4 linked regions of the Homo sapiens genome follow. The protein of the gene in region 4 interacts with the protein of the main gene of each other region in a pairwise test. Each region holds a gene or a part of one and is shown on either strand. Other genes may lie near its edges.

Region 1 (8,353 bases), on a different chromosome or scaffold from region 4:
TCTCATGTGTGTGCCCAGCTCAGGGAGGGAGATTCATGACTAATCTCCAGCCTGCTAGGAAGAGTAAGGTCTTGGTCTCTCATGACCCCACACGGGCCCAGGGAGGGTCTCTCATGATCCCTCCCTGTGGTGCAGGGAGCCGCATGTTGGGCTGTCCAGCATGGCCTGGCTCCCAGGTTTGGAGAGGGCATGTGAGGACAGGCACTCCAGGGGACAAATGTCAGGAGTCTGTCCAGTTCTCCAGAGACCTGGCATGTCACCTGAAGGCCCCCAGGTACCCTCTGAGCTTACTCCCTCTCCTCCCTAGAGCATCTTCTGAAATGTCACGTTTTGACGGCGCCTCCCCGCCACGCCCCAGCTTCTCCCTTGTAGCTCCCTCAGATCCTGTCGAAGTCACAATTTATGATGATATTCCTGTCCTCCACCAGAATGAGAGTTTCTCGATGATGTTTGTTTTGATTATTCAGGAGTTCCGGGAACCTAGATCACTGTCTGGCACATGTAGTGGCAGATGTTCAATGAATGTTTGTGAGACGCACAGAGAAATGAATGAATGAATGAATAAACGAATGAATGAATGAACGAATGAATGAATGGACAAATGAATGAATGAATGAACGAATGAATGAATAAATGAATGAATAAAAGAATGAATGAATCAGTGAATAAACAAATGAATGAATGAATGAATGACTCCCTTCCCGGGCAGAAAGGGACAAGGCAGTCAGCCCTGCATTCTTCCCCCAATGAGGAATGTGGATGATGGAAGGTCAGGCCAGGACTGACAGCCAGGTCCCAGCCCCTTTGAACCCCTTGGTTTCTGCCTCAAAGGTAGGGACTTCCTGCCACCTCTGTCCTGACCCCATCCCCCACTGGTGTGTGTCCCACTCTGGCCCATGCAAGGGCAGCCTCATGCAGGCATCTTATTCCAGCAGAATCACGTGGGTTTCATGCATCCAGTCCCCCAGGGGCACTGCCACTAGGAAACGAGGGGCTTCATTTCCTGCCACACAGCGGGTGGGACAGACCCAGTCCCCAGCATTGCCCAGAAGCCATGGACCGCCAGCCGACCTCCAGCTCCCCTCAAGGCCCCATGGCTCAGGCCAGCCCTGGGGGGATGGAGTCCTCAATGCAGGCCAGCCCACCATTCACTTACCTGGTGGACCAGGGGGACCCCGGGGTCCTGGGACACCTGCCAGCACTGTGTCCACGATGGCAGAGGCCAGCCTTGAGTCTCCATCTGTGGGAAGAGCGGAGCGGCCAGGGGTCTGGTGGGGCAGACCTGGCAGTGCTGGGAGGCTGGTCCGGGGCACTGAGCCCTGAGCCAGGCCACACGAAGCCCAGGGGGGCTCCTCCCATCACCCTGGGGCCCGCTGCAGATACTGTTGCCCCCACTGCTCAGAGGAGCACGGAGAGGCCCAGACAAAGAGCAGGGAAAGCCAGGTCGGTCAGCTTCATATAAAACATAAATACCTTCTAGAACATTCCAGGCTCTTCAGACTCTGGGTCTGCCCTGCTCACTTCTCCAATGCCCCAGGCTGGCATCTTCTTCCAGGCTCCATCCCACAGGCCCATCCTGCTGCACCCAACTGGCTCACTCCTCCAGGAAGCCCTCCATGCCCACCCCTCTGAGCTGTGCCTGGGGAGTCTGATTACATCATGGCGACCACACTGCCTGGAGCAGGGGTGGAGTCTGTTTAACAACCCATCTCCCATGGCCCTCCAGGATGAGCCCCTCACCTGATTCACCCTGGCCAATCCTGAACCAGACCCAGGGCCCCAGGGCAATGCCATCACCTTCCTCATAAAACCCTTCCCCAGGCTGGGCACAGTGGCTCACACCTGTACTCCCAGCACTTTGGGAGGCTGAGGAGGGAGGATCACTTGAGGCCAGGAGTTCAAGACCAGCCTGCCCAACATAGTGAGACCACATCTCCAGACCAGCCTGGGCAACATTGTGAGACCCCATCTCCACTCAAAAAAAAAAAAAAAAATTAGTTAGATGTGGCGATACATGCCTAGGGTCCTAGCTACTCAGGAGGCTGAGGTGGGAGGATCCCTTGAGCCCAGGAGTGAGAGGCTGCAGGGAGCTATGATGGCGCCACTGCATTCCAGCCTGGGCAACAGACCCTATGTCAAAAAAAATTAAAGTAAAAATCTTCCCCAGTTGCCGGGACACTTAACCAGAAATGATGCTCCTCTCAGGGCTCACGGACTCCTCTGCCTGGCCTCCCACTACCTCATGGTCCCTTAGGCCCAGAGTCCTGGTCCCGTCCACTCTCTGCACCTCCTTGTCCCCACCTCCCAAGGTAGAAGTGGACATTTCTGTGTGTTCAGAGGCTCTCTTGGACTGGCCGGTGCCCCCGAGGGCCGGAGTTTGTTTTGCACATTGCTGTGTCCCCAGTGGCTAAAATCCTGTGCCTTGCACATAGTAGGTGCTCACTAAACACCTGCTGAATGACCTGCAGTGAGGGCGGGTGAGGAACAAGTACAATAAGGGATAACCTTGGTGGGGTGGGGTAGCCAGGTAGGGAATCTGGGCCAAGTCAGCCAGCAGAGTGAACTTTGGGGCTCACAACCCCAAAGGCAGGGAGCTGAGCACTGAGGCAGAGACAGGCCACTTTGGGGCCAAAAGCAGGGCTTGGGGCTAGCCCTGGGTCCACTTGAGGATGCTTAGCCCCAGGACCAAGCCTTGCTCCCAAGCTGTTCCCTGTCATCGTCACTGGCAGGCCCTGGACACTGCATGGAGGGCTTCCTGGAGGAGGCCTGCAGGAGTGAGCCAGTTGGGTGCAGCAGGATGGGCATGTGGTGGGGTCCACTTCCCAGGATCCTTTAAGGAAGGCTGATCCCTCCCAGAACACAGCGTAGCTCAGCCCTCCCTTGGCCCCCCAGGGGCATTACTCACTGTCTTTGTCTGTAGGCGGCTGCAGGGAGTAGAGGGCGCCCTGGGGGCTGTTTGGTGAGGGGCCTGGGTTGCCTGCTGGGCCGGGTGGTCCTGGGGGGCCGGGGCGCCCCATCTCTCCAGGAAGCCCACGGGGCCCTGGAGGCCCCAGGAGCCCTGCAATGAGGAAAAGAACAGTCACTGTGGCAGCCGGAGCCTGGCGGGTGGCTGCAACTTACAAATGGGGAAACTGAGGCCTTGAAAGAAACAGGGTTGGTCAGGGGCCCACAGGCAGTCAGTGGTGACCTCCGATCCACAGTCTTCCTTGGGGGTGTCCTGGGGTGTAAATGAAATGGGCTTCCCTTCCCAGCCCAGTCCAGAGGGGACACTTAGTGGCAGCTTGGGAGGGTGAGGGGGGCAGGGACGGTGAAATCAGCAAAGGCTCTGGCCAGAGGCCCATTGGTCCCTCCCAGGGACTTCAGCCCTGTGGCAGGAACACCAAGTATAAGCCACCATCCTGGGCTGGCCCTGTACCTGCTGAACCAGGGGTCCTTCCCCGGCAGGACCCAGGAGGAGTTGAGAGGGTGGTCTCTGGAGGTGTTTAAATGGCTGAGAACTGCTCCTGGCCCCTGACAGCCTCGATGCTCATGCCTGTACCCGAAGCCCCTGAAGACCCTGTTTTGGCCAGGTGTTGTGGCTCACCCCTGTAATCCCAGCACTTTGGGAGGCCAAGGCAGGCAGGTCACCTGAGGTCAGGAGTTCAAGACCAGCCTGGCCAACATGGTGAAACCCTGTCTCTACTAAAAATACAAAAATTAGCCAGGCATGGTGGCAGGCACCTGTAATCCTAGTTACTCAGTAGGCTGAGGCAGGACAGTTGCTTGAACCTGGGAGGTGGAGGTGTCAGTGAGCTGAGATTGTGCCACCGTGCTCCAGTCTGGGCGACACAGCACAAGACTCCATCTCAAAAAAAAAAAAAAAAAAAAGCCAGGTGAGGTGGTGGCTCACGCCTGTAATCCCAGCACTTTGGGAGGCCAAGGTGGGTGGATCATCTGAGGTCAGGAGTTCGAGACCAGCCTGACCAACATGGTGAAATCCTGTCTCTATTGAAAATACAAAATTAGCCAGGTGTGGTGGCGCATGCCTGTAATCCCAGCTACTCAGGAGGCTGAGGCAGGAGAATTGCTTGAACCCGGGAGGCAGAGGTGGCAATGAGCCGAGATGGCATCACTGCACTCCAGCCTGGACAACAGAGCGAGACTCCCTCTCAAAAAATTAAAAAAAAAAGACCCCGTTTTTCTGGTACCCAGCAAGATCAGGGCTGTGGGTGCGTGGGACACCTCGCCTGTTCCAGTAGAGAAGAAAGCCCAGCCCCTTCCGCAGGTTGACAACATCACATATGTGGGGGGTTTTCTTACCAGGCGGCCCCGCTGGACCCTTCTCTCCTGTCTGGCCTCGGTCACCTTTAGACCCGGGGGGGCCTGCAGGCCCTGGTGGTCCTGTCTGCCCCGGGGGCCCTGGGGAGAGAAGGAGACAGGGCATCAGAACATGGTGGACCCCCAGCCTCCAGTGGCTCCAGGCCTGGCCCCCTGGGCTGTCAGCCTACGTTCCCCCAGGAGCCCTGCCTACCTGGGACTCCCTAAACAGGCAAAGGCACTCACATCACCTTGGAGCTGGTTATTACAACTTACAAACCAGCTTTGCACTTACAAACATCTATGATTCTAAGAACTGCTTTCGTTCCCATTTTCAATGTGGGGAAACTGAGGCTCAGGAAGGTTGGTCCCTTGCCCAAGCTCACACAGCCAGGCTGCAGATGAAGTTGCTTAGCTCCAGGTCCCTCTCTCACACCCTGCTGTCTCTCTGCTTAGGGTCAAGAACCGGGCTTGTGGCAAAGTGCTCCCCAACAGGTGGCCTCCGAGGAGGCCCCAGGAGGTCCTGAAGGATGGATCTTCCCAGCTACAGATCTCTAAACCCCAAGGGTGGACAAGGAGATGGAGAGGTAAGGCTTGCTGTGTGGCCAGGGGACAGCCTTTTCTCCCTCTGGCCCAGAGAGGATGCTGAAAAATGTTTGCTCAGCACCTTAGGAGGCTGAGGCAGGAAGATCACTTGAGCCCAGGAGTTTGAGACCAGCCTGGGCCACATAGTGAGACCCCATCTCTACAAAAGATACAAAAGTTAACCGGGCATAGTGGTGCACGCCTGTGGCCCCAGCTACTGGGGACGTTGAGGTGGGAGGATGGCTTGAGCCCAGGAGGTCTGGGCTGCAGTGAGCTATAATCACACCACTGCATTCCAGCTTGGCTTACAGAGCGAGACCGTCTCAGAAAAAAAAAAAAAGTTTGCTGATCTGATGAAGGGACCTGCACTGAGTCTTAGGGCCCTTTGCACTCTGCCTGCATGGGACTGTGGTATGGTGGGGAGGGCCTGGCTGGGGGCTGCTGGCCTCGGAAGAGCCCCACCTGCGCTCTGGAATCCAGGTTGGCTGCAGGTGTCACCATGTGTAGAGTGTGTGCCCCACCTGGTGGCCATTCTTGAAACTGCATTTTCCCCTGGTTGGAAAGGTCTTGCCAGGCATGCGCTTTCGTGGGCCTGGGTCCCCGGTGGGATGGGAAGCCCCTCCTCCTCCATCCCCCAAGAAAGATCTGAAGAATGTGGGCATGAGGTAACGCTCTGGGGGTGAGACCTTAGGGACAGCGGCTCGAGGGGTAGGCCGGGGGCCAGAGTGAGAGAGGTCCCCCTTCCCGTAGGAGACCTGAGCTCGGCCCTCCTCCCGCAGCCTTCAGTCCCTTTCCAAGAATGCAGGATACCCTACTCTCCTTCCCCGGCCCTGGGACTGGCCACTGGAGGCCACCTGTGTCATGCATCTCTCCTCCCTGCTCTGCCCCTGCTCCCCAACCCAGCATCAGAATAGACACTCAGAACAGAGGGCAGAGGGAGAGCGCCCCCTCCAAAGGGCTCTAAGGGCAGAGAATCATGGAGGCAAAATGCCCCCAGCTTGCTGGCTTGCTGGGTGACCCCAGGGGTGTCACTTAACTTCTCTGAGCCTCAGGTGTCTCCCCTGTAACCTCAAGGCTTCCAAGCTTTGTGTGAAGATTAAGAGTGATATCTGTAGGCTGGGTGCGCTAGCTCACACCTGTAATTCCACACTTTGGAGGCCGAGGCGGGTGGATCACTTGAGGTCAGGAGTTTGAGGCCAGCCTGGCCGACATGGTGAAACCCCGTCTCTACTAAAAATACAAAAATTAGGCTGCGTGTGCTGGCTCACACCTGTAATCCCAGCACTTTGGGAGGCCAAGGAGGGCAGATCATTTGAGGTCAGGAGTTCAAGACCAGCCTGGCCAACATGACAAAACCCCTTCTGTATTAAAAATGCAAAAAGTAGCGGGGCTTGGTGGTGCGTGCCTGTAATCCCAGTTATTAGGGAGGCTGAGGCAGGGGAATCCCTTGAGCCCAGGAGGCAGAGGTTGCAGTGAGCCGAGATCACGACACTGCACTCCAGCCTGAGTGATAGAGTGAGACTCCATGTCAAAAAAAAAAATTATATCTGTATTTGAAATATTTTCATATCTGATATGAAAATATTTAATAACTGGCACAGTGCAGATCCTGACCACTCATGGTAGACCTCAGCCTTCAACCCCTGGATTCAGCCTTATAGACAGGTGTTGTTTGCTAAATGTCCTCCAGGATAAAGCCCCACCTCAGTGTCTGGCAACCAGGAGGGCTTCATCGATTGCAACTATGATTATTACAATTGTGATTAAAGCAAAGGTAATTACAGCCCCAGGTGGCAGAGCCCAGACCAGTAGGTAGAATCTGCAGAGGGAAAATTCTTCCCCTTAACTTTAAAATGTGGCCAGGGCCAAGCATGGTGGCTCACACCTGTAAATCCCAGCACTTTGGGAAGCCGAGGCATGAGGATTGCTTAAGGCCAGGAGTTTGAGACCAGCCTGGCAACGCAGTGAGACCTCGTCTCTACTAAAAATTAAAAAAAAAAAAAAAAGCCAAGTGTGGTGGTGTGCACTCGTAGTCCCAACTACTTGGGAGGCTGAGGCAGGAGGATCACCTGAGCCTCGGAGATGAAGGCTGCAGTGAACTATGATCATACTACTGTGCTCCAGCCTCAGTGACAGAGCAATACATTGTCTCAAAATAAAATAATAAAATAAAATAAAATTGTAAAAGTGTGGCAGGAAGGCAGGGGGGCAGATGTCCTCCAATTCCAGCCAGAGAGTTCAGAGAGCAAACCCCAGAAAGAGGTGGGAAGCAGTAAGTTCCTGCTCCCTGGCCAGGCAGAATGCTGCAAAATTGAACCCAGCAAGGCTGGGCTGGGGGCCATAAGTGCAGAAGCCAAGGAGCAGGGCAGATACTGAAGACAGTAGCTGAGCTGTAAGACAATAGGGAATGGTGGGGACTGCGGCAAACTGCACAGCCTGGACTGGACCTACAGTGGCAACCCAGTAGCTGGTTGTTTCCATGAGGGACTGCCAGCCCTGATGGCCAATTTTCTCATTTTTATTTTTATAATTTTTTGTAGAGACAGGGTCTCACTATGTTGCCCAGGCTGGTCTTGAGCTCCTGGCTTCATGCAATCCTCCCACCTCAGCCTTCCAAAGTGCTGGGATTATAGGTGTGAGCCACTGCACCTGCCCAAGATCATCTATTTTTTTGAGACAGGGTTTCACCCCGTCTTCCAGGCTGGATTGCAGTGGCATGATCTTGGCTCACTACAGCCTCCACCTCCCCAGCTCAAGCAATTCTCATGCCTCAGCCTTAGGAGTAGCTGGGATTAATCATGCTGGGCTAATTTTTGTATTTTCAGTAGAAATGGGGGTTTTACCATGTTGCCCAGGTTGGTCTCGAACTCCTGACCTCAAATGATCCACCTGCCTTGACCTTCCAAAGTGCTAGGATTACAAGCATGAGTGAGCCACTATGCTCGGCCAGATGGTCTACTTTTTTTTTTTTTTTTTTAGACGGAATTTTGCTCTTGTCCCCCAGGCTGGAGTGCAGTGGCGTGATCTCGGCTCACTGCAACCTCCGCCTTCCGGGTTCAAGCGATTCTCCTGCCTCAGCCTCCTGAGTAGCTGGGATTACAGGCACCTGCCTCCACGCCTGGCTAATTTTTGTATTTTTAGTAGAGACAGGGTTTCACCATGTTGGCCAGGCTGGTCTCGAACTCCTGACCTCAAATGATCCACCCTTCTCGGCCTCCCAAAGTGTTGGGATTACAGGCATGAGCCACTGCACCTGACCAGATCGTCTACTTCTTAAGAGAAACTAGAAATCCTGGCTTTTAGGTGAAATACCCATTTTCAACTGTTAGCTTAATTTTTCAAAATGCCACATGGCATGTTGGAACTAGAGTGTCTAGTGTGTGGCCTCTCTAGGGAGGCCCTGGGAGGCCATGCCCAAGGTCCCTTCGGCTGCCCCAGCCTGTCCTCTCTGCAGCCCTCACTCACCGGCTGG
Region 2 (4,958 bases), on a different chromosome or scaffold from region 4:
CGCGGGCAGGACAGGCAGCAGCAGCTGCAACGCGACCCGCAGAAGGCCCTGTGTGACCTCCATCCTTCCTGGAAGGAGATACAGGCGCTCCAGTGTCGGCCTGGTCACCCTCCTGAACAGCCCTGGGAGACCAGTCAAATGCCGGAGTCCCAAGTTAAAGGTAGCAGAAGGCCCAAGTTCCACGCACGGCCTGAAGACTACGCAGTGTCACAGCCCAACAGAGACATACAGGAGAAAAGGGAAGCCTCCCTCGAGGAGAGCCCAGTTGCCCTTGGGGAGTCAGCCAGTGTCCCCCAAGTTTCAGAGACAGTCCCTGCCAGCCAACCTCTGTCCAAGAAAACCAGCTCCCAGTCAAACTCCTCCTCTGAGGGGTCGATGTGGGCCACCGTGCCGTCCTCCCCTACTCTGGACAGGGACACAGCCAGTGAGGTGGATGACCTGGAGCCTGACAGCGTGTCCCTGGCCCTGGAAATGGGGGGCTCGGCGGCTCCTGCTGCCCCCAAGCTCAAGATCTTCATGGCTCAGTATAACTACAACCCATTTGAGGGGCCCAATGATCACCCTGAGGGTGAGCTGCCCCTCACAGCTGGGGACTACATATATATCTTCGGGGACATGGATGAGGATGGCTTCTATGAGGGGGAGCTTGAGGATGGCCGGCGGGGGCTGGTGCCCTCCAACTTCGTGGAGCAGATTCCGGACAGCTACATCCCAGGCTGCCTGCCTGCCAAATCCCCTGATCTTGGCCCCAGTCAACTCCCAGCGGGGCAGGATGAAGCTCTGGAGGAAGACAGCTTATTATCTGGGAAAGCCCAGGGAGTGGTGGACAGAGGGCTGTGCCAGATGGTCAGGGTGGGCTCCAAGACAGAAGTAGCAACAGAGATCCTGGATACCAAGACGGAAGCCTGCCAGCTGGGCTTGCTGCAGAGCATGGGGAAGCAGGGCCTCTCCAGACCCCTTCTGGGGACCAAAGGGGTGCTCCGTATGGCTCCCATGCAGCTACACCTGCAGAATGTCACAGCCACATCAGCCAACATCACCTGGGTCTACAGCAGCCACCGCCACCCCCATGTGGTATATCTTGATGACCGAGAGCATGCCCTGACCCCAGCGGGCGTGAGCTGCTACACCTTCCAGGGCCTGTGCCCCGGCACGCACTACCGGGCGCGGGTGGAGGTGCGGCTGCCACGGGACTTGCTGCAGGTGTATTGGGGAACTATGTCCTCCACCGTCACCTTCGACACACTCTTGGCAGGACCTCCCTACCCACCGCTGGATGTGCTGGTGGAGCGCCATGCCTCGCCAGGTGTCCTGGTGGTCAGCTGGCTCCCTGTGACCATTGACTCAGCTGGGTCCTCCAATGGAGTCCAGGTCACCGGTTATGCTGTGTATGCAGATGGGCTTAAGGTTTGTGAGGTCGCCGATGCCACTGCTGGGAGCACCCTATTGGAATTCTCCCAGCTACAGGTGCCCCTCACGTGGCAGAAGGTCTCAGTGAGAACCATGTCACTCTGTGGTGAGTCCCTGGATTCAGTGCCTGCTCAGATCCCCGAGGACTTCTTCATGTGTCACCGATGGCCAGAGACTCCACCCTTTAGCTACACTTGTGGCGACCCATCCACCTACAGAGTCACCTTCCCCGTCTGCCCCCAGAAGCTGTCACTGGCTCCTCCGAGTGCCAAGGCCAGCCCCCACAACCCTGGAAGCTGCGGGGAGCCCCAGGCCAAGTTCCTAGAAGCATTCTTTGAAGAACCCCCAAGGAGGCAATCCCCAGTGTCCAACCTGGGCTCAGAAGGAGAATGTCCGAGTTCAGGGGCTGGCAGCCAAGCCCAGGAGCTTGCAGAGGCCTGGGAGGGCTGTAGAAAGGACCTGCTCTTTCAGAAGAGTCCCCAGAACCACAGGCCACCTTCAGTCAGTGACCAGCCTGGGGAGAAGGAAAATTGCTCCCAGCACATGGGCACCAGCAAAAGCCCTGCTCCAGGATTCATCCATCTACGCACCGAGTGTGGGCCCAGGAAAGAACCGTGTCAGGAAAAGGCTGCCCTTGAGAGGGTACTTCGGCAAAAGCAAGATGCCCAAGGGTTCACACCTCCCCAGCTGGGCGCCAGCCAACAGTATGCATCTGACTTCCATAACGTTTTGAAGGAGGAGCAGGAGGCACTGTGCTTGGATCTGTGGGGCACAGAGAGGCGAGAGGAGAGGAGGGAGCCTGAGCCCCACAGCAGGCAAGGACAAGCTCTGGGGGTGAAGAGAGGGTGCCAGCTCCATGAGCCCAGCTCGGCACTGTGTCCAGCTCCATCCGCCAAAGTCATCAAGATGCCCAGGGGTGGCCCCCAACAGCTGGGGACGGGGGCCAACACTCCAGCCAGGGTCTTTGTGGCCCTCTCTGATTACAACCCCCTGGTGATGTCTGCCAACCTCAAGGCTGCAGAGGAGGAGCTGGTCTTCCAGAAAAGGCAGTTGCTAAGAGTGTGGGGCTCTCAGGACACCCATGATTTCTACCTCAGCGAGTGCAACAGGCAAGTGGGCAATATCCCCGGGCGCCTAGTGGCTGAGATGGAGGTGGGGACAGAGCAGACTGATAGGAGGTGGCGTTCTCCGGCCCAAGGGAACCTGCCTTCTGTGGCCCACCTCGAGGACTTTCAGGGGCTCACCATCCCCCAGGGTTCCTCCCTGGTGCTCCAGGGGAACTCCAAGAGACTCCCACTGTGGACTCCAAAGATCATGATAGCAGCTCTGGACTATGATCCTGGGGATGGGCAAATGGGGGGCCAGGGGAAGGGCAGGCTGGCGCTGAGGGCAGGAGACGTGGTCATGGTTTACGGGCCCATGGATGACCAAGGATTCTATTATGGAGAGTTGGGCGGCCACAGGGGCCTGGTTCCTGCCCACCTGCTGGATCACATGTCCCTCCATGGACACTGAGCAAGCATCCTTGCCCAGGTAGTGGCCTCTGGCTGCTCACACCCTGCCAGAGGAGAAGCAAGCGTTCAGACCCTCACACCAGCACCCCTCCTCACCACCATAAGTAGCATGTGCTCCAAGTGCCACTGTGTTAAACTGATGGTAGTCCTTAAGCGTCCCCTAGGCTCTGAAAGTAGCAGGACTTAAGCCTGAGTTATTTGCAAAAGCAAACACAACAAGCCAACCCCTGAGAGTCTGAGAAGCCATTTCAAAGTTGCTGATAACTATGGCAGGTATACGGAGAAGCGCCTTTTTCTGTGGCCAATGTGTGTTTTCTCTGGGAGGTTAAGGTTATCTGTCCATTGCCTTGTACGAAAGTCTCAAGAAAAGTCTACATCTTAAAAAAGAAAAAGCAATCTGAGTGTTATTTTTGGGATGTGAGGGTGATCTGGCTGCGACATGTGTCACCCCATTGATCATCAGGGTTGATTCGGCTGATCTGGCTGACTAGGCGGGTATCCCCTTCCTCCCTCACCACTCCATGTGCGTCCCTCCAGAAGCTGTGTGCTCAATGGAAGAGGATGACCATCCCCGATAGAGGACGATCGGTCTTCAGTCAAGAGTATAAGAGTAGCTGCGCTCCCCTGCTAGAACCTCCAAACGAGCTCTCAGAATGTTATTTTTCTGTCTTATGTCCAACCCCTCATTAAAATGTTCATAGAAAAAACATATTTTAGAAGTTGAAGCACAACCAAGGAAACATGAGCCTGGCTTTCCTCCCTCTCACTTCTGCGCATTGGGTCCGCAAGGGCTACAGAAATGTTTTCCTGGCTGAGGAAGGGAGGGTGCACCCTTCTGCTTTTTTTTTCCTGGCTGCAGTCTATTCCCAGAACACATTCCATCACATGGTTCCCAGAACTCAGATTGTGCGGTGGCCACGTCATCATTGGCTGGGGCTCACAGTCACAGCAGCAGAGGCCTCCCTAAACCTCCCTCTCCTCTAGCCCCACCCGCTGTCCCCTGCTCCTCATGCCCCCATGCTGTGTCCCCTGGCCTCACTTCCGTTGCCATGTTTTCATAATCCTCTCAGGCTCTGGGCAGCAGCGCTGCCCACAGTAGGACCAGATCATGTAAGGAAAATACTGCAGGCTCATCTTGGGGCTGCACTGGCGACCTGAGAACACCTTATCCTACTGTACCTGCTGCACCTCATCTGACACCAGCTTCTCTGCTTTGCCCAAGGTCCCTAGGCCCTGAATGCTTACTTTTTAAGGTCAGCCTGGCTCAGGATATGCTAGTTTGGCTGCAGAGGGTCCTACTAAGAGCCAGGACTGAGGAGCAAGGCCCAAAAAACTCCTCTGGGCCACATCTTCCCCGAGGGCATCCCCGCAGGGAGGCCGTGTGCTGCTGAGCCCTTTGCTAGGAGTGGGTAGTCAGTGTCTCCCACATGACGATCTTGCTTCATTCAGATAGCTTTCGTAGCTCACTGCTTTTCTGAGTCACTTCCTGTGAGGGATCACCTTGGGATGGAATTTCTTTTCCTTTTTTTTTTTTATTTGGAGACAGAGTCTCGCACTGTCACCCAGGCTGGAGTGCAATGGCACAATCTCGGCTCACCACAACCTCTGTCTCCCGGGTTCACACAATTATCCTGCCTTAGCCTCCCGAGTAGCTGGGATTACAGGTGCACACCACTACACCTGGCTAATTTTTTGTATTTTTAGTAGAGACAGTGTTTCACTATGTTGGCCAGACTAGTCTCAAACTCCTGACCTCGTGATCTGCCCGCCTCAGCCTCCCAAAGTGCTGGGATTACAGGCGTGAGCCACTGCGTCCGGCCTTCTTTTCCACTTTTTTTTTTTTTTTTTTTTGAGATGGAGTCTTGCTCTGTTGCCCAGGCTGGAGTGCAGTGGTGCAATCTCAGTTCACTGCAAGCTCTGCCTCCCGGGTTCACGCCATTCTCCTGCCTCAGCCTCCTGAGTAGCTGGGACTACAGGCGCCCGCCACCACGCCTGGCTAATTTTTTGTATTTTTACTAGAGACGGGGTTTCACT
Region 3 (7,585 bases), on a different chromosome or scaffold from region 4:
TGGAGTCCGTCCACCTGAATGTGGAGGCCGTGAACACACACCGGGAGAAGCCTGAGGTAGGTGGGGGACTCCATTACCCAAGCTGGCTGTGGACACAGCACATGGTGGAAGCACCTTCTCCACAGAAAGACTGCCCCAACCCCACCGAGCCTGGGTGTTTTGCACCAAAAGGTGGAAAAAACAGCACCCAGAAATGCAGGAACTACAGCCCAGACCTGAGGCATCATGGAGATGCAGGGCTGGTGCAATCCCTGCCAAAAAGGCCTCAGGCTGAGATTTCCTCCAGGCCTACCTGAGGGTCAGGATCCAGGCCTGGCTGAAAGAGGGGAGCCTGGCAATGAGGACAACAGGCAGGGGAGGCGTTGGGGCCCTGCACTGCTGTCTCCTTCCTATTAATCCTGGGCTCTCTCCTCAGAATGTGGACATCACTCAGGAACCTAAGGAAGCTGTGGACACCATCCCTACCCACTACCAAACCCTTCCCAGGAGGCCAAATTGCCTTTGCTCTTTTTTGTGCCCCAGGAGCTCCCGTCTCTGCCCTTGTCCACATGTCCAGATACCACCAAGCACCCAAGGAAGTCATGGCCTAGGCCTAATTTTGTCCTCAGTGGGAGAGCCTTGCTTCCAGCATAGAACTCAGCAGCTCAAGCCAAGTTCCTGCTCACAGTCACAGTCAAAGCCTGTGCATGGAGCTTTGTCTTACTTTGTAATTCTTGTTCTTGAGGTAACAAAGTCTTCTCTTTCTCCCTGCAGGAGAGAAGAGGCCATTGTGAGGCCTCCTTCACTGCCCATAAGATCCTGTCTCGAGGAGGCAGCCCCGGTCCTGTGCAAGTGGGAAGATTGTGAGGGCCTCCTAGAGGGACAGGATCCTGGGCAGCATTTCCAGAGATGGGGAGGAGTGCCTGTGAGCCCATCCCTTTATGAGCAATGTGGCTAGGGGTATATCTTCCTTCTCACAGAGGAGACTCTGGCATCTAACTCATAGTGTTCTCTACTCCTACTCCTGCTGCCCTCCTGGAGTTCTTTCACTTTCCACATGGGTTGTATAACCAACACCCTAGAATCACAGGCCATGGACCCCTTATCTCCAGAATAGTCACCTTCTGTCCCCTTCAACTACCTACTCTCTGGACCTTATCATCACCTGGAGCTCCACCTCCTCTGTGTTCTTAAGTGCAACTGTCTGAGCACCAATACCCTCTCTCACTATGCGACTTCTCGCAATGTCACTCCAAGACACCTAGCAGCATATCTATCACATGAGAGTCACTTAAGTGATATTTATTGAATAAACTATACTAGTTCTTGGGTCTCGTGTTCATTGATCCTGCCTTTGTATCCCAATCCAGTAGCTAGATCTTCCCACATTTCCACCTGCTGAAAGCTGATCTACCCTTCAAACTACAGCTGAGGTCCTGTCTCTCCCACATAAACATGTTGCTCGCTCCCCAAATATAGGGAAAAAAAGAAGCAGAGAGCACATCTAATTCACTTTGCAATTTCAATGTTTATTTCTGATACCAAAACTTGACAGCACACAAGGGGAAAAAAAGCAGTAGACAAGGAACAGCAAATAAATTTATCTTGCATGCCACTTTCAGTCAACAGGATGTGGCTCTCTAGATAGCTGTGTTTAGAAGGAATCTGAGGCTTCAGCCTCACACAGGGGAAAGACTACTGCGATTGATAGCAATATCTGTGAACATAAGAAAGAAGAAGTAAAAAAATCAATGATATATATCAAATAATAAGGAATATACATACCAAAGAGTGCTGCCCCATACTTTCCTCATCTCCCTACAATGAGTTTCCTAATACTTCTAGCTCATGCACATAAATACAACCCCATGGACCCTATATCCCCCAGAGACCCTAACTGCCCAATCCAAAGTGATGTACCTACCCAACATCTCACTCAACCCAGAAGAAACCAATGGCACCAAAGTTGGCAGCGAAGTTGGCACTGGCTGTACCACCAGGACCAATAATGGGACCGGCAAAGGTCTGAGGGAATCTGGAGCGGGCATTCTGGTGGTATCTGGCCCAGAAGGTAAATGGAATTCTGGACCAGGGATCTCCAAAATCTCCTTCCTCATCCCAGGTCAGCAGCTCAAACTCAATGTCATCCCAGCTCCAGGGCCCAGACACAGCCTCATCTCCAATTCCCATGCGGGTTCTTGCTTCAGCCCGGGCTTCGGCCTCAGCTGCAGCAGCATCCAGAGCATCCAAGGCCTCATCTGCAGCCTCCATGAACTGTGCAGTCCAGTCACGAGGGTCTCTTTTCTGAACCTGAGATGAGGAATAGAAAACAAAACAAAATCCATTTACAATAGCCAAGATATGGAATCAACCTACCTGTCCATCAGTGGATGAATGGATAAGGACAATGTGATACACACACACACAATGGAATACTATTCAGCCTTTAAAAAGAAGGAAATTCTGCCATTTGCAACAACATAGATGATGCTGGATGACATTATGCTAAGTGAAATAAGCCAGACACAGAAAGACAAATACTGCATGACCTCACTTATACATGGAATCTAAAAACGTCTAACTCATAGAAGCAGAGAGTAGAATGGTAGTTTCCAGGGCCTGGGGTCAGGAGGGATAGGGAGATATCGGTTAAAAGGTACAAAGTTTCATTTAGATAGGAAGAATATGTTCTGGAGATCAACCGTATAGCATGACGACTATAGTTAATAATAATGTGTCGTTTATTTAAAATTGCTAAAAGAGTACATTTTAAATGTTCTCATCACAAAAAAAATGTCAAGTATATGAGGCTATGGAGAGTTAACTAGCTTGATGTAATCATTCTGCAATGTACATGTATTATCAAAACATCATACTGTACCCCATAAATATGTATATTTTTTATTAGTCAGTTAAAAATAAATGAATGGGCCGGGTACGGTGGCTCACGCCTGTAATCCCAACACTTTGGGAGGCTGAGGCAGGCAGATCACTTGAGGTCAGGAGTTTGAGACCAGCCTGGCTAACATGGCAAAACCCTGTCTCTAATAGAAAAATAAAAATTTAGCCAGGCATGGTGGTGGCACGTGCCTGTAATCCCAGATACTTGGGAGGCTGAGGCACAAGAATCGCTTTAACCTGGGAGGCAGAGGTTGCAGTGAGCCAAGATTGCGCCACTGCACTCTAGCCTGGGCAACACAGCAAAACTCCATCTCGGGAGAAAACAAATAAATAAATAAATAAAACAAAATACTTAAAAATTACATTGTACACCACAAATATATACAATTTTTGTCAATTATAATTTAGTAAAGTTGGGAAAAAATAAAAATACTTTAAAAACCTAAAAAAAAACCCAAAACAAACTCATAATTGTATTAGCTAATATATTAACATATGTTAGCACCTAATACATGTTAAGTTTACCTAACAGCAACAACAAATACCACCAGCAATGCGGCACCTACCACCTGCCACACCTAGGATCTCATTCCTACCCTGGGCCTTTCCCAGCCAGCTATACTTCATCCCTTGACCTATCAATGCTGGAACAGTTCCTCCATTACCTCTGCAATGAATCTCAGCACTTTCATCTTGCTAGTCTCATGGTAGGAACGGAGGCCCCAGAGGAACTCATACTCCGGGGGGTTGCTGTTGGGCACTCGTCTGTAGTCCAGGTATCTGAAAGAGCAAAACAGTCTTTGTGTCTACCTACCCAGGCAGAATGGTAGTCCACTAATGAAAAATAATCTTACATTTTTTAACAGATTTCAGATAGCAACTCCCCCTTGGGCTCATTCCTGAACACCATCAGGGTATTTACCCCTTAATCATCAAGCCTTAAATTCCTGCACTAGAACGCTAAGCACTCACTAGAGATGCAGGCGAGGCTTGTATAGGGTCACAGAAAGGACAACATTTCCTTTCACTCCTTCTGCCTCAGCTCTAGCTCCAGATTCTTGTAATCTTGTCAGTGAGCCACAGAGGTCCATTGAAATGAGTACAATGCAGTGCAAAAGTGTCAGCCTGGCCCAGCCTTGGGAATGTCTACTGTGGGGATGGTGGATGGGCTTCACTTGCAAGACAACTGCTTAGAAAAGTAGAAAAATTAGAAAAATTCTGGCCGGGTGTGGTGGCTCACACCTGTAATCCCAGCACTTTGGGAGGCAGAGGTGGGTGGATTGCTTCAGGTCAGGAGTTTGAGACCAGCCTGGCCAACGTGGTGAAGCCCCATCTCTACTAAAAATACAAAAACAGCCGGGCACGGTGGCACGCACCTGAAGTTCCAGTTACTCGGGAGGCTGAGGCACAAGAATTGCTTGAACCTGGGAGGTGGAAGTTCAAGCGAGCCAAGATTGCACCACTGCACTCCAGCATGGGCAACAGAGTGAGACTCAGTCTCGAAAAAAACAAACAAAAGAATTCGCCCGGTACGGTCGCTCACGCCTGTAATCTCAGCACTTCTGGAGGCCAAGGCAGGCAGATCACCTGAAGTCGGGAGTTTGAGACCAGCCTAACATGGAGAAACACCGTCTCTACTAAGAAGACAAAATTAGGTGGGCGTGGTGGCACATGCCTGTAATCCCAGCTACTCAAGAGGCTGAGGCAGGAGAATAGCTTGAACCCAGGAGGCAGAGGTTGCGGTGAGCCGAGATCACGCCATTGCACTCCAGCCTGGGCAACAAGAGCGAAACTCCGTCTCAAAAAATAAAAAAATAAAAAATAAAGAATTTAACCATGAGGAGTATATGCAATAAATACTCCTGAGGACATAAGTGTTTCTGTATGCACAGAAACACATATGCACAAGTATAGTGTAAGAAACGAGCTTGAGAAGGGCTTTCTTTTATTTTTTTTGAGACAGGGTCTCACTCTGTTGCCCAGGTTGGAGTGCAGTGGCATGATCACAGCTCACTGCAGCCTCAACTTCCTGGGCTCAGATGATTCTCCCCTACCTCAGCCTCCCAAGTAGCTGGGACTACAGGTGCATGTCACCACGCCTGGCTAATTTTTGTATTTTTTTGTAGAGATGGGGTTTCGTTATGTTGCCCAGGCTGGTCTTGAACTCCTGGGCTCAAGCGATCTGCCCACCTGAGCCTCCCAAAGTACTGGGATTACAGGCATGAGCCATTGTATCCAGCCAGGAAGGGCTTTCTAAAGCTGACCAGCACACAGGCAGAATCATAAGAAGCAGGAAAAGCCCCTTAGGCATCACTTACTTCTGCTTTACAAACTCATAGGTGAGAAGTTTCCTTAGATCTCCAAGGAGGGGATGTCTCACCCTGAAGGTAAAAAAAGGAAACCCACAATCAGAGGCTATTACCATGCCCAAAGAGCTTTCCAGAACAGAGGTCAGAGATGAGAAAAGAGGCAGAGAGTTCAGAACTGTTTCCCCATCCACCCAGGTCACATCTTTGGGCTCTGAACATCCCCAAACCAAACCCTCCAGACCCCCAGGTTAATGCAATCCTGGGACCATCCACTGTTGCCAAAGGATGGCACAAACAGGCAAGAGATGAGAGAGCCCAATCATACCCAGGACGCAGTCCCATCTTGCGTAGTGCCTCCCAGAGGACAGCTGCAATGGGAGGCAAGGGGAGACAAGGGACGGAAAATAAGCATGGAAATCAGGCTGTGGCCAACCCCCAGCTGCAGGTCCAGCCACTCACCCTCACTGGCACGGTTGCCATTCATGAAGATGACACCCAGAATCACCAAGAGGAGACCGAGCTTGGGTGTGTCTTTGGTCCTAAGGGAATATAGAAAGAATATATTTTCAGTAGCCATTTGCATGAGAGACCCCAACCAGCTTGCCCATCTAGCCTCCCCAATATTCCTCAGCTAGGGGAGAATTATACCCCAGCTCTGCCCATGACCTGCTATGTGACCCTGAACCCTGGACCCTGATCTACGTGAAACTCCTAGAAAAAAAGCACCACTGAGAAAGGCCATGTTCCACCTTCTTTCCCATCTTACGTTCCCAGTATGCCAGCCAGGGACTCGGGGGTACTGATGAGAATATACAGGTGTTCTTCTTTGTCAATTTCTTTCAGTTGAATCCCAAATTTCTACAGGGGCAAGAAAACAGACTATGAAATTACAACATCTAGCATAAGCTACCCATAGGCAGACACTCATCTCCCTGAGACTTGCCCTAAACTCCCAGTAGGAACCCCATGAATCTTTGAAATCAAGACTTTCCCCATTATTCCTGTACCCCAGGGCTGCCTTCTCACCTTCTCTAGGACAAAGCATGCACGTTCAATGATTTCTGGATAAACATCAGTGTATTCACGGATGATATCTCTCAGCATTTCTGTAGGAGAGAGGAGGGAGCCATCTGAGCCGAGCGGGGGCCACAGAGCAGCAGTCCCTTTGCCAGCCCTGCTGGGGGTAGCACAGTCAAGGTCCTCAAGGGTGGAAAGAGCCAACCATGGAAAGGAGGGGATAGAAGGGGAAGGGTCATACAAGCAGAAGAATGCCGACAGAGCATGGAGTGAAGGGAAGGGCAGAGCTACAAGCAGAAGAATGCTGACAGAGCATGGAGTGAAGGGAAGGGCAGAGCTTGGGGAGGGGACACTGGATGCATACCTGAGCGCTTGATGGGCACCTTTGTGTAGTCCTTAAGCATCAAGTACTTGACCAACTTATTTGCCTGGGAGGGAAAAAGGAAATCATTAAACTTATAAAATATTTACAAAAAAACTTGGTTGAATTACAGATGAGAGGATGACAAAGAAAAGAGCAAGAGAGGGGAAAAGTGACTGGGGAGTTACAGCTCTTACTCTTTCCTGAAGAAGGGCCACATCTCGGGGCTGTGCAGCACCTGGGTTCTGTGAGGCACGCGAGTTGGGAGAAGGGCGCAGGTTAGGCGAGGGGCGCAGGTTCTGCCAGTCAGGTGGAATTGGCCAATCAGCGGGGATCCAGTCAGGTGGTAGTGGCCAGTCAGTGGGAAGTGGCCAATCAGGTGGCAGTGGCCAGTCGGGTGGTAGCGGCCAGTCAGGAGGACCTTGCCAGTCTGGAGGACCCTGCCAGCCCGGTGGGGTCTGCCATCCAGGTGGAGTCTGCCATCCAGGTGGATTCTGCCAGGCCAGTGGATTCGGCCAGACAACAGGGCCGGGCCAGACAATGGGGTTTGGCCAGATCACTGGGTTCTGCCAGATTACTGGGTTTGGCCAAATCACTGGGTTCTGCCAAGCGACTGGGTTCTGCCAGGCTGGTGGGGTCTGCCTAGCTGGAGGGCTCTGACGTGCTGGTGGGGTCTGCCTGGCTGTCTGGTTTTGCCAGCCTGAGGGGTTCTGCCAAGCCAATGGCGTCTGCCAGAGCACATTGGGGGGTGCGCCAGGTGGGTTCTGAGTGGTCACTGGAACTGGTGCAGACCTCCAGGTCCCTGCAGCCAGTGGGGCCCGCCTCTGATCCCCACTGCTGTTCTCTTCAACATTCAAGTTATTAATCTGCATCATCAGAGAGAAGTTCAGAATCACCAGTGGGTTCTGTGTCCTCACCTTATCTATTCCAGGAATGCCCTCTAAACCCTCACCTGTAGTGACAGCCTGACCCACTAGCCATTGGTCACCCTGAGTCCTGGGTTTGTCTTTCACTGTCT
Region 4 (9,073 bases):
CATTGCCACCCCATGTCTTTCCTACTTGAAAAAAACAGATTTAATTCCAGGACTCACCCACCACTTTCAGAGCCCTCAGATCACGTGAATCACAGAAATCAAGTGATGATCTTTGAAACTTTCTGAAACTGAGCTCCCCAAGTCTACAGGGGATCTAACCATGCCTGGCCTTCCCCACCAACACAGAGCACATCTCCCAAAGGCTTCCAACCAACCTGGGCCATCAACCAGGGTCCCCTGTTGCCCAACTCAGCAAGTGCTGCATCCTGGGAGATGAAGCCTCGCCCACCCCACAGTGTTAAGAGCTTGTGGTTCTCGGTTTATCACCCATCCTCTGGTGACTGCACACTGATCATTCACTCATCTGGGAACCACTGGCCACATTCTCCCACATTATCACCTTGACCAGGTTGTCTCAGGTAACCTTCGAGCCTTCCATCCAAATAGATGTTAAGTGCACGGGCTCCACGGTTGGAGGCCAGCTCTGCTGTATCCAACCTGTGACCTTGGGCAAGGCGTGGGTCCCCTCCAGGCCTGTTTTCTGATCTATAAAGAGGGTCACCTTGGTGTTTTCTTCACTGGGTTGTGGGAAAGATTAGAAGGATTAATATAGAGAAAGTGCTAAGGAACCTGGCTCAGTAAACATTAGGGGTATCACTTCTTATCGCACTGAGTGCAAAGGGACAGAGTCCACTCCATGGCAGCCTTCCCATTACTCCTGAGCTCTCAGGGACCAGTGCATAACAGTGTTTAATAAATGACCAAACAGCCTGGGCATTTTTCTCCTTCCTGCTCCACCTACAGAAGAAAGAACTCTTGGCAAACATCTGGATAACCTCTTTTTCCTGGGATGTCTGAAGTCACTCCCTAACCCAAGCCAACTGGCCAGCCTCAAGCTGTTCTGAGCTGCAGGTCAGGCACCAGATCTTATTCAGAGACACCATGTACCCCCACCCGCTCCCCCCAAGCAGTGCTTTGCTGCATCTGCTTTTCTCTTCAGTTAAAACACACAAGAGCAGAAAATACCTCCTGTCTTCTAATCCTTTGGTATCCCTAGTCTCTGCAGAAGCTTCCCAGACCCTTTTGGAAGATTCCAGAGGACAATCATCTACGGGCCTTTTCTGCATTTGGATTGTGAGGTCCTGGGGTTTCCTAAGAAAGGGAATACACCTGTTTCCAGGAATCCTCCTGGCTCTGGCACACTGAGGAAATTAAACACTGAAGGTGATCCAGGCTTTCCCAGAGGCTGGCTGGTGGCACTGGGGAGATGAGCAATTCCTGGTCAGCCCCTACAGGCTCTGTGGCCAGCTACGCCTGGACCCCTCTAGCAGCAATGCCTGCTGCATTCGAGGAAAGCCAAGTGCAGGAGACTGCGAACACAGCCAGTACCCATGGAAGCAGGGAGAGTGGCCCTAGTGCAACATAACTTGGCCACGTCGACCCTCATAGGGGTGGATGTGATCTCATCATCCACTCAGATGTCTGAGACTGTGCAGAAGCAGGGCCAGTGAAAGCAGAGGGCAGATCCAATGCTTCAATGGGGCCCTGCTGTGCAGATTGAGAGTCTGCCATGAATATGACTGAGGATGGCCAGGACATAGAACAGGGAGCAGTGTTCTGCCAAACAATGCCAATAGGCAGTGGCTGGTGCTGTGTGGAGTGATATTTTAGACGTTATATTTGCCAGGGCTGCAGCAACATGGAAGTCACATAAAGGGACTGAATTAGCCCTGGTCACTCAGGCGCCAGGGCACTACTTGTGTTCCAAATCAACCCTGCCACTACCTGCCTGAGCTCAGACAAACACTCTGGGCCTCCATCTCTTCATAAGTAAAACAAGAATGGTGATCTTCACTTCAGGCACTCACGGACAGGACTCAACAGGGCTCTGTGCATGCCAGATAGCAAGAGCACAAGGAACAGCAGCTCTTTTCCTGATACAACTAGAGAATAAAGGTGGAGCCTGAGACAGTGGTCCCAATTCCACTGGCAGCCTTCAGGCAAAAAGTCCATGATTTTACCTCAGCTATTCCTTCCGACCTTCCCAGGTTCCAACAATAGCATCATCTAAGGATAAAAAGACAATGATGTTCTTATAGAGGCACAGACCACTAATGAGGAAAAATAAGTTTAAAAATATTTAAGTTTGTCTTTTTTTTTAAATAATTGGTGTGATTATATGTTTCAAACAAAAGTTGCCACCTCTTGGATGTCTGAAAAGAAATCTGCCAAGCAAAGCAGACACGATGATTCTAAATCATTTGCAAAGTCTTTTATCCCTCCCCCCAGAATCCGCATATGTTGGGGATCAGGGATTAGATATAAAGGCAATTTAACTTTTTAAACCAGAAAAAAGCCTCACAAATCACAGTTCCATGCACATACCTATGAATTTGTCCAAAATATCTAGCATATGCAAATTCTTTCACTGAACACACTGCAATGCACCTTCATCATACTTAATTTCTGTTTAATTCTGTGTGATTTATCTACGGCCAAATTTCCATTTCTGTATCAATCAAAAGTAAATTAGTTGAATTTTCATTAAAGGTCATAATAAACTACAATATCATGTTAACTTATTTCCAAGAAGTGAAAGCTTCAACCTTTATTGGTAATTAAGATCTTTACAAACAAACAAGGGCTCTTTTATAACTTAGTGCATATATATTATGTATTTGTGTGTGTTTGAACATATAAATATGTATGTGTCATAAAATATCATTAAAAACTAAATCACATATCTCTGATAAGATTACATTGTAACCAAGAAACAAAAAATTGCCTCGATATAGTTCTATTTTATCCCTCAAAAAGAATGAGACTTGATTTTCTAGAGTTCGTCCCTTATGCATCTACGACAATCTTTGATACTAACAGGAAATATTTTCCCCTTGGCCCTCCTATCTAATGTACATAAAATCATTACTTTCAAATGCCATAATTACTGCCATAAAATGTCTAATGTCTCCCTCAGGAGTAATTAATTTCATTTCTGTACATCAGTGGCATTGGCAACTACATATTTTAGAAATTTACTGTTAATTTCTTATTTCCAGGCTCCCTCAAATGTTTCAAAGCCCTGGCCTCCCACTGTCTTCCTACAACCCTGCTCTGAATCCTGTCCCCTCCCTCCCCTGCACCTGGCATTGCATAGCCTGCCCAGAAGGCAGGTGTGGGTGGGAACGCCCCCTAAATGCTTCTGCAAGGCTTAGCTTCCTGCTGTGCTGTCTGTGTCTATTAGTAAAGGCAAAATGTCAAGGAAAGGATTCAATCAACCCCTTGTCTCTAAAACCAGGTATGTTCTTTTAGCTCATTCTAAAAACTCATTATAATGTGATCATTTGGTATTGTTTTGTTTCCCAGGAAAGGCAGTGAACAGGATACATGTCCAGATCTTTGGATATAATCTGTTGGAGAAAGGATCTGGGGCTGATGCATGGTTCTTACCCTACTGCCCAGCGCAAGCCCGGGCTGAGAATAACAGCAACACAGGATAAACCCCGGGAGAGACAGTGGGAGGGAGGAAAACAACTGCAGCCTGAAAGTCACCCTAGGAGAAAAATTCATAGGCAGAATTCTTGAGTGCTGAAAAAACAGGGGGGAGAGGGAGAAGGTAGGGGAGAAGAATAAACAAAGAGAGGAAAAGAGAGAGGGAGAGAGACTGACACAGAAGAAAATGAAAACAGGAAGACAATAAAGAAGAGATAGAGGAGAAAAAGTGAGAGAAGAGAAAGGGAACAGAAACGGGGATGGGACTCGGAGACGACGTGGGAGAGAGAGGAAGCTGGCGACATTGGGAAGGAAAGGACCCCACAGTCAAAGGCAGGACTCAACAACCCTGTCCTGGGGAAAGGCTGATGTGGAAGTGAGATGGACCCCGCCGCCCGCGCCCGCTCGCGGCTCTGTCCCTGCAGACAGGAGGGTGCGCCTCACCTGGGCTCTCTGGAGATGTGGAGCAAGAGGTGCTGGTGCAGCACAGCCTCCTCCCGGCCAAGAGCACTGCGCGTGGCTCTGAACTTGGCGCCGGAGCCCTGAGGGCGGCCAGATCCCGCCCCCAAGCCGCTCCCGCCTTCGGGGCGTGGTCTCGGCGTCGCCCACCCCCAGGGAAGCTCCAGCCTTCGGGGCGGGGCTTGCGGGTGGGCGGCCCCGGCAGGGGAGGGTGCCGCTGGCCAAAGAACTCACAACCCCGGGAGAAAACCCCCTTCTGACCCTCTGGGCTGCCCGGCCCTTCCCCGGCTCAGCTCCGCGGAGATGCCCCCAGCTGGCTTGGTCAGGGCCGGGCGCCATCGCCTGCGGGAGGGCGAGGGCGTTCTTTGGAGGCGGTGCCTGCTCTCGCCTACGCCCTCTGGTCCTGGGCGCCCGACCTCTCGCTCCTGGGCCCGCGGGGCCTCGGCGATGCGGGCGAGGGCTGCGCGCGGTGCCTGCGGCTCCAGTCTGCGCCGAGGACCCCCACGGCCTCCTGGCCCTCCTTCCCCCAGCAGCCTGGCGGCCGCTCGATCGGCACCTCCCCCCGCCGGAATCGCCCAGCTCCCCCCGGGAGCGCCCGCCGCCTCTGCTCCCCAGACCTCAGCTGTGACCACGCAACGCTCTGCCAGGAAGGCGGACTCCGCGACTCGGGCCATGGTGGAAAATGACAGTTAAAGTGCGTTAAAATTAAGAACTTATACTTTGATTAAAAAACAACAAACGGAGTGAAAAAGCAAGCCACACACTGAAAGAAGATACTTGCAGCAATTGATAAAGGATTAGTATCCAGGATATATACTTTTAATGAATTAGTGTGAAAGAGAGGAACACCCAAAGCAACGAATGGACACAGACATGAATAGGCACTTCAAAGAGGAACCACTAACGACCAAAATCATGTGAAAGGACGAAGTCTCTAGAGTAATTAGAAAATGCAAATTAAGACCACAAGGAGATGTTTAATCATTAGGCATAAATGTTAAAATATAATAATACCAACTGTCATGGAAGGCATGAAGCAAGGGAACCCTAATATGCTGGGGCGAAGTACACCCAATTTCATTTATTATAAAAGACCACTAATTTAAGATATTCTATTATACTAAATACAGCTCCAAAAGAGGGGGAAAAAACTGACAACCAACCAACTCAAATGCTTTTCATCACTTGTAATTTTTAAGTTATATAAAGAAAGATCTATTTTAGACTGTATTAATCCATTCTCACACTGCTATAAAGAATTGCCTGAGACTGGGTAATTTATAAAGGAAAGAGGTTTAATTGACTCACAGTTCAGCATGGATGCAGAGGCCTCGGGAAACTTACAATCATGGTGGAAGTGGAAGCAAAACAGGTCCTTCTTCACAGGGTGGCTGGAAGGAGAAGAATGAGAGAAGTGCAGAGTGAAGGGGGTAAAAGCCCCTCACAAACCCATTAGATTGCCTGAGAACTCACTCACTATCATGAGAACAGCACAGGGCAACCACCGCCATGATTCAATCACCTCCCAGTAAGTCCCTCCCCCTACATATGGGCATTACAATAAGGACTATAATTCAAGATGAGATTTGGGTGGGGAAACAGAGGCAGGCCATATTATTCCACCCCTGGTCCTTCTCAAATCTCATGTCCTCATATTTCAAAACACAATCATGCCTTTCGAACAGTCTGCCAACGTCTTAACTAATTCCATCATTAACCCAAAAGTCCAAGTTCAAAGTCTCATCTGAGACAAGGCAAGTCCTTTCCACCCATGAACCTGTAAAATCAAAAGAAAGTTATTTCCTAGATATAATGCAAGTACAGGCATTGTGTAAATACACCCATTCCAAATGGGAGAAATTGACCAAAACAAAGGGACTACAGGCCCCATGCAAGTTTGAAACCCAATAGGGCAGTCATTAAACCTTAAAGTTCCAAAATGACCTCCTTTGACTCCATGTCTCACACCCAGGTCATGCTGGTGCAAGATGTGGACTCCCACGGCCTTGGGCAGCTCTGGCCCTGTGACTTTACAGGGTACAGACCCCCTCCCAGCTGCTTTCTTGGGCTGCCTTTGAGTGCCTGTGGCTTTTCCAGGCACAAGGTGCAAGTTGTCGGTGGATCTACCATTCTTGGATTTGAAGGGCAGTTGTCCTCTTCTCACAGCTCCACTAGGCAGTGCCCAAGTGGGGACTCTGTGTGGGAGCTCCAGCCCCACATTTCCCTTCTGCACTGCCCTAACAGAGGTTCTCCATCAGGGGCCTGCCCTTGCAGCAACTTCTGCCTGGTCATCTAGGTGTTTCCACACATCCTCGGAAATCTAGGCAGAGATTTCCCAACCTCAATTCTTTTTTTTTTTTTCTTTCCTGACATGGAGTCCCACTCTGTTGCCCAGGCTGGAGTGCAGTGGCATGATCTCGGCTCACTGTGACCTCCACCTCCTGGGTTTAAGTGATTCTCCACTTCAGCCTCCCAGGTAGCTGGGATTACAGGCACCTGCCACCATGCCAGGCTAATTTTTGTATTTTTAGTACAGACAGAGTTTCACCATGTTGGCCAGGCTGGTCTTGAATTCCTGGCCTCAGGAGATCCGCTGGCCTTGGCCTCCCAAAGTGCTGGGATTACTGGCGTGAGCCACCACACCTGGCCCCAAACCTCAATTCTTGACTTCTGTGCACCCACAGGCCCAACACCATGTGCAAGCTTCCAAGGCTTGGGGCTTGAACCCTCTGAAACAATGGCCCAAGTTGTACCTTGGCCCCTTTTAGCCACGGCAGGAGCTGAAGCAACTGAGACGCAGGGCACTATGTTCCAAGGCTGCATAGAGGAGATGAGGGCCAATGAGCCTGGCCCACGAAACCATTTTTACCTCCTAGGTCTCTGGGCCTGTGATGGGAGGAGCTGCTGTAGGTCTCTGAGATGACCTGGAGACATTTTCCCCATTGTCATGATGATTAACATTCATCTCTTCATTATTTATGCAAATTTCTGCAGCAGGCTTGAATTTCCCCCAGAAAATGGGTTTTGCATTTCTATCACATCTTCAGGCTGCAAATTTTCTAAACTTTTATGCTCTGCTTCCTCTTGAACCCTTTGTTGCTTAGAAATTTCTTCCACCAGATACCCTAAATCATCTCTCTCAAGTTCAAAGTTCCACAGACTTCCAGGGCAGGGGCAAAATGCCATCAGCCTCTTTGTTAAAACATAGCAAGAAGCACCTTTATCCTAGTTCCCAACAAGTTACTTATCTCCATCTGAGACCACCTCAGCCTGGACTTCATTGTACATATCACTATCAGCATTTTGGTCAAAGCCATTCAACAAGTCTCTAGGAAGTTCCAAACCTTCCCACATCATCCTGCCTGTCTGCTTGTTAGCCCTCCAAACTGTTCCAACCTCTGCCTGTTACCCAGTTCCAAAGTCACTTCCACATTTTTTGATATCTTTACAGCAGCACCCCACTACCTGATAACAATTTATTGCATTAGTCCATTCTCATGCCGCTGTAAAGAACTGCTCAAGACTGGGCAATTTATAAAGGAAAGAGAGATTTAATTGACTCACAGTTCAGCATGGCTGGGGAGGCCTCAGGAAACGTACAGTCATGGCAAAAGGGGAGGCAAACACGTCCTTCTTCACATGATGGCAGGAAGGAGAAGAATGAGAGAAATGCAGAACGAAGGGGGGAAAGCCCCTCACAAAACCATCAGATCTCATGAGAATTCACTCACTATCATGAGAACAGCATATCACCCCCATGATTCAACCACCTCCAATGAGGTCCTTGCCCCAACACATGGGGGTTACAATTTGAATTATAATTCAAGATGAGATTTGGGTAGGAACACATAGCCAGAACATATACACTTGGTAGAAATTTTCTAAAATTATATGCCACTCTTGTGCATACAAAAATGGAGAAAATAAAATTGATTAAGGTATTTCTACAAATGTTTTACAGTAACACTCTGACTTCTGAATCACGCTTGAATCCCACTTGGTTGTGCCCATGTTTTTCCACACACTATACCCTCTCTGCCATTCAAAGCCCTGGTCATACAGCAGTTTTGACACTGGGATGTGAACTCATTCACACTCCTGCCCTAGAGCTGGGGCCTGTGTTCCCTCCCACTGACTCTTGGTATCCCATTGACTGCTTGGATTAATAGAGTACAGTGGAAGTGACACTGTGTGATTCCCAAGGTGATGCCATAAAAGGCTCTACAATTTCTGACTTGCTCACTGAAAATACTTACTCTTGGAACTCTAAGCCACCTGTTAAAGCCCAAGCACCTTTAAGCCACCATGCTGAGAGGAAGCCCAGGTCATACAGGGAGGCCACATGCAGAGTCTCCATTCACAGTTCCAGCTGAGCCCAGCTTTTGAGTCCTCCTGCCAGAACCCACACTTATGAATGGAGGATCCTCCAGAAATCCCAGTATCCAATCCTTCAAGTCATGTCCGGCTGCTCAAGCCTTCCCATCAGGGTCTCCAGACATGTGGAGCCCTCCCCACTCTGCCCTGAGTGCCTGATCCTCAGAACCTGTGAGTGTAATAAAATGGGCCTTCATCATAGAATAAATAGGCTTCATTGTCCTCTTATTAATGCGGGAAATTTCCTTTTTGTTTCATTTTGTTTTCCTGCTTAATACTGTTGTGTTCCCCAGGAATGTTTCCTGCTCCAGGCTGACAAGTCCTCAGTCTCCACGCCTTCCTCACCTACTGGCTTCCTTGCTCACTTCCTTCAGCCTGGCCTCTGATTTCAGGCTGACCTAGTGACCGTGCACTGGAGGCCTGTGCTGTGGGGTCCCCTGTACCAGCCCACATTTCCCGCTTATCTTTACCACCAGCCATGAAGTAGGGGTGGAGACGATGTTTAGCCCTGGGGAGAGGAGGAAACTGGCTCAGAGAGGTTAAGTAGCATGCCCTAGACATTCAGCAGATTCAAACTTGGATCTTATAACTTGTGTCTACCTGATCCACAATCCATGCTATTAGGTTTTTTAAGTTATTAATTGTGATAAAATATATACAACATTAAATTGACCATTTTAACTAGTTTTAAGTGTACAATTCCTTGACATTAAGTACATTCACAGTTTTGCACCCATCACGATCACCA

What was found.
Region 1: the proteins of ZNF488 (region 4) and COL26A1 interact in binary tests that used the Homo sapiens proteins (3 or more experiments, as listed by UniProt).
Region 2: the proteins of ZNF488 (region 4) and RIMBP3 interact in binary tests that used the Homo sapiens proteins (3 or more experiments, as listed by UniProt).
Region 3: the proteins of ZNF488 (region 4) and MAGED1 interact in binary tests that used the Homo sapiens proteins (3 or more experiments, as listed by UniProt).

The regions. Positions count from the first base shown.
Region 1 is NC_000007.14:101,540,043-101,548,395, reverse strand, and holds part of COL26A1 (collagen alpha-1(XXVI) chain isoform 1 precursor), read right to left. Parts: coding exon 8,347-8,353; intron 4,399-8,346; coding exon 4,300-4,398; intron 3,059-4,299; coding exon 2,906-3,058; intron 1,241-2,905; coding exon 1,157-1,240; intron 1-1,156.
Region 2 is NC_000022.11:18,604,482-18,609,439, reverse strand, and holds the end of RIMBP3 (RIMS-binding protein 3A), read left to right. Parts: coding exon 1-2,925; 3' UTR 2,926-3,625; downstream 3,626-4,958. UniProt on the Homo sapiens protein: Probable component of the manchette, a microtubule-based structure which plays a key role in sperm head morphogenesis during late stages of sperm development.
Region 3 is NC_000023.11:51,896,257-51,903,841, reverse strand, and holds the end of MAGED1 (melanoma-associated antigen D1), read right to left. Parts: intron 7,434-7,585; coding exon 6,765-7,433; intron 6,635-6,764; coding exon 6,571-6,634; intron 6,296-6,570; coding exon 6,216-6,295; intron 6,048-6,215; coding exon 5,956-6,047; intron 5,729-5,955; coding exon 5,649-5,728; intron 5,558-5,648; coding exon 5,515-5,557; intron 5,262-5,514; coding exon 5,199-5,261; intron 3,661-5,198; coding exon 3,546-3,660; intron 2,290-3,545; coding exon 1,912-2,289; 3' UTR 1,904-1,911; intron 1,697-1,903; 3' UTR 1,488-1,696; downstream 1-1,487. UniProt on the Homo sapiens protein: Involved in the apoptotic response after nerve growth factor (NGF) binding in neuronal cells. Inhibits cell cycle progression, and facilitates NGFR-mediated apoptosis. May act as a regulator of the function of DLX family members.
Region 4 is NC_000010.11:47,380,284-47,389,356, forward strand, and holds the start of ZNF488 (zinc finger protein 488), read right to left. Parts: upstream 4,011-9,073; 5' UTR 3,937-4,010; intron 3,554-3,936; exon of another isoform or gene 3,451-3,553; intron 2,068-3,450; exon of another isoform or gene 2,022-2,067; intron 579-2,021; exon of another isoform or gene 1-578. UniProt on the Homo sapiens protein: Transcriptional repressor. Plays a role in oligodendrocyte differentiation, together with OLIG2. Mediates Notch signaling-activated formation of oligodendrocyte precursors.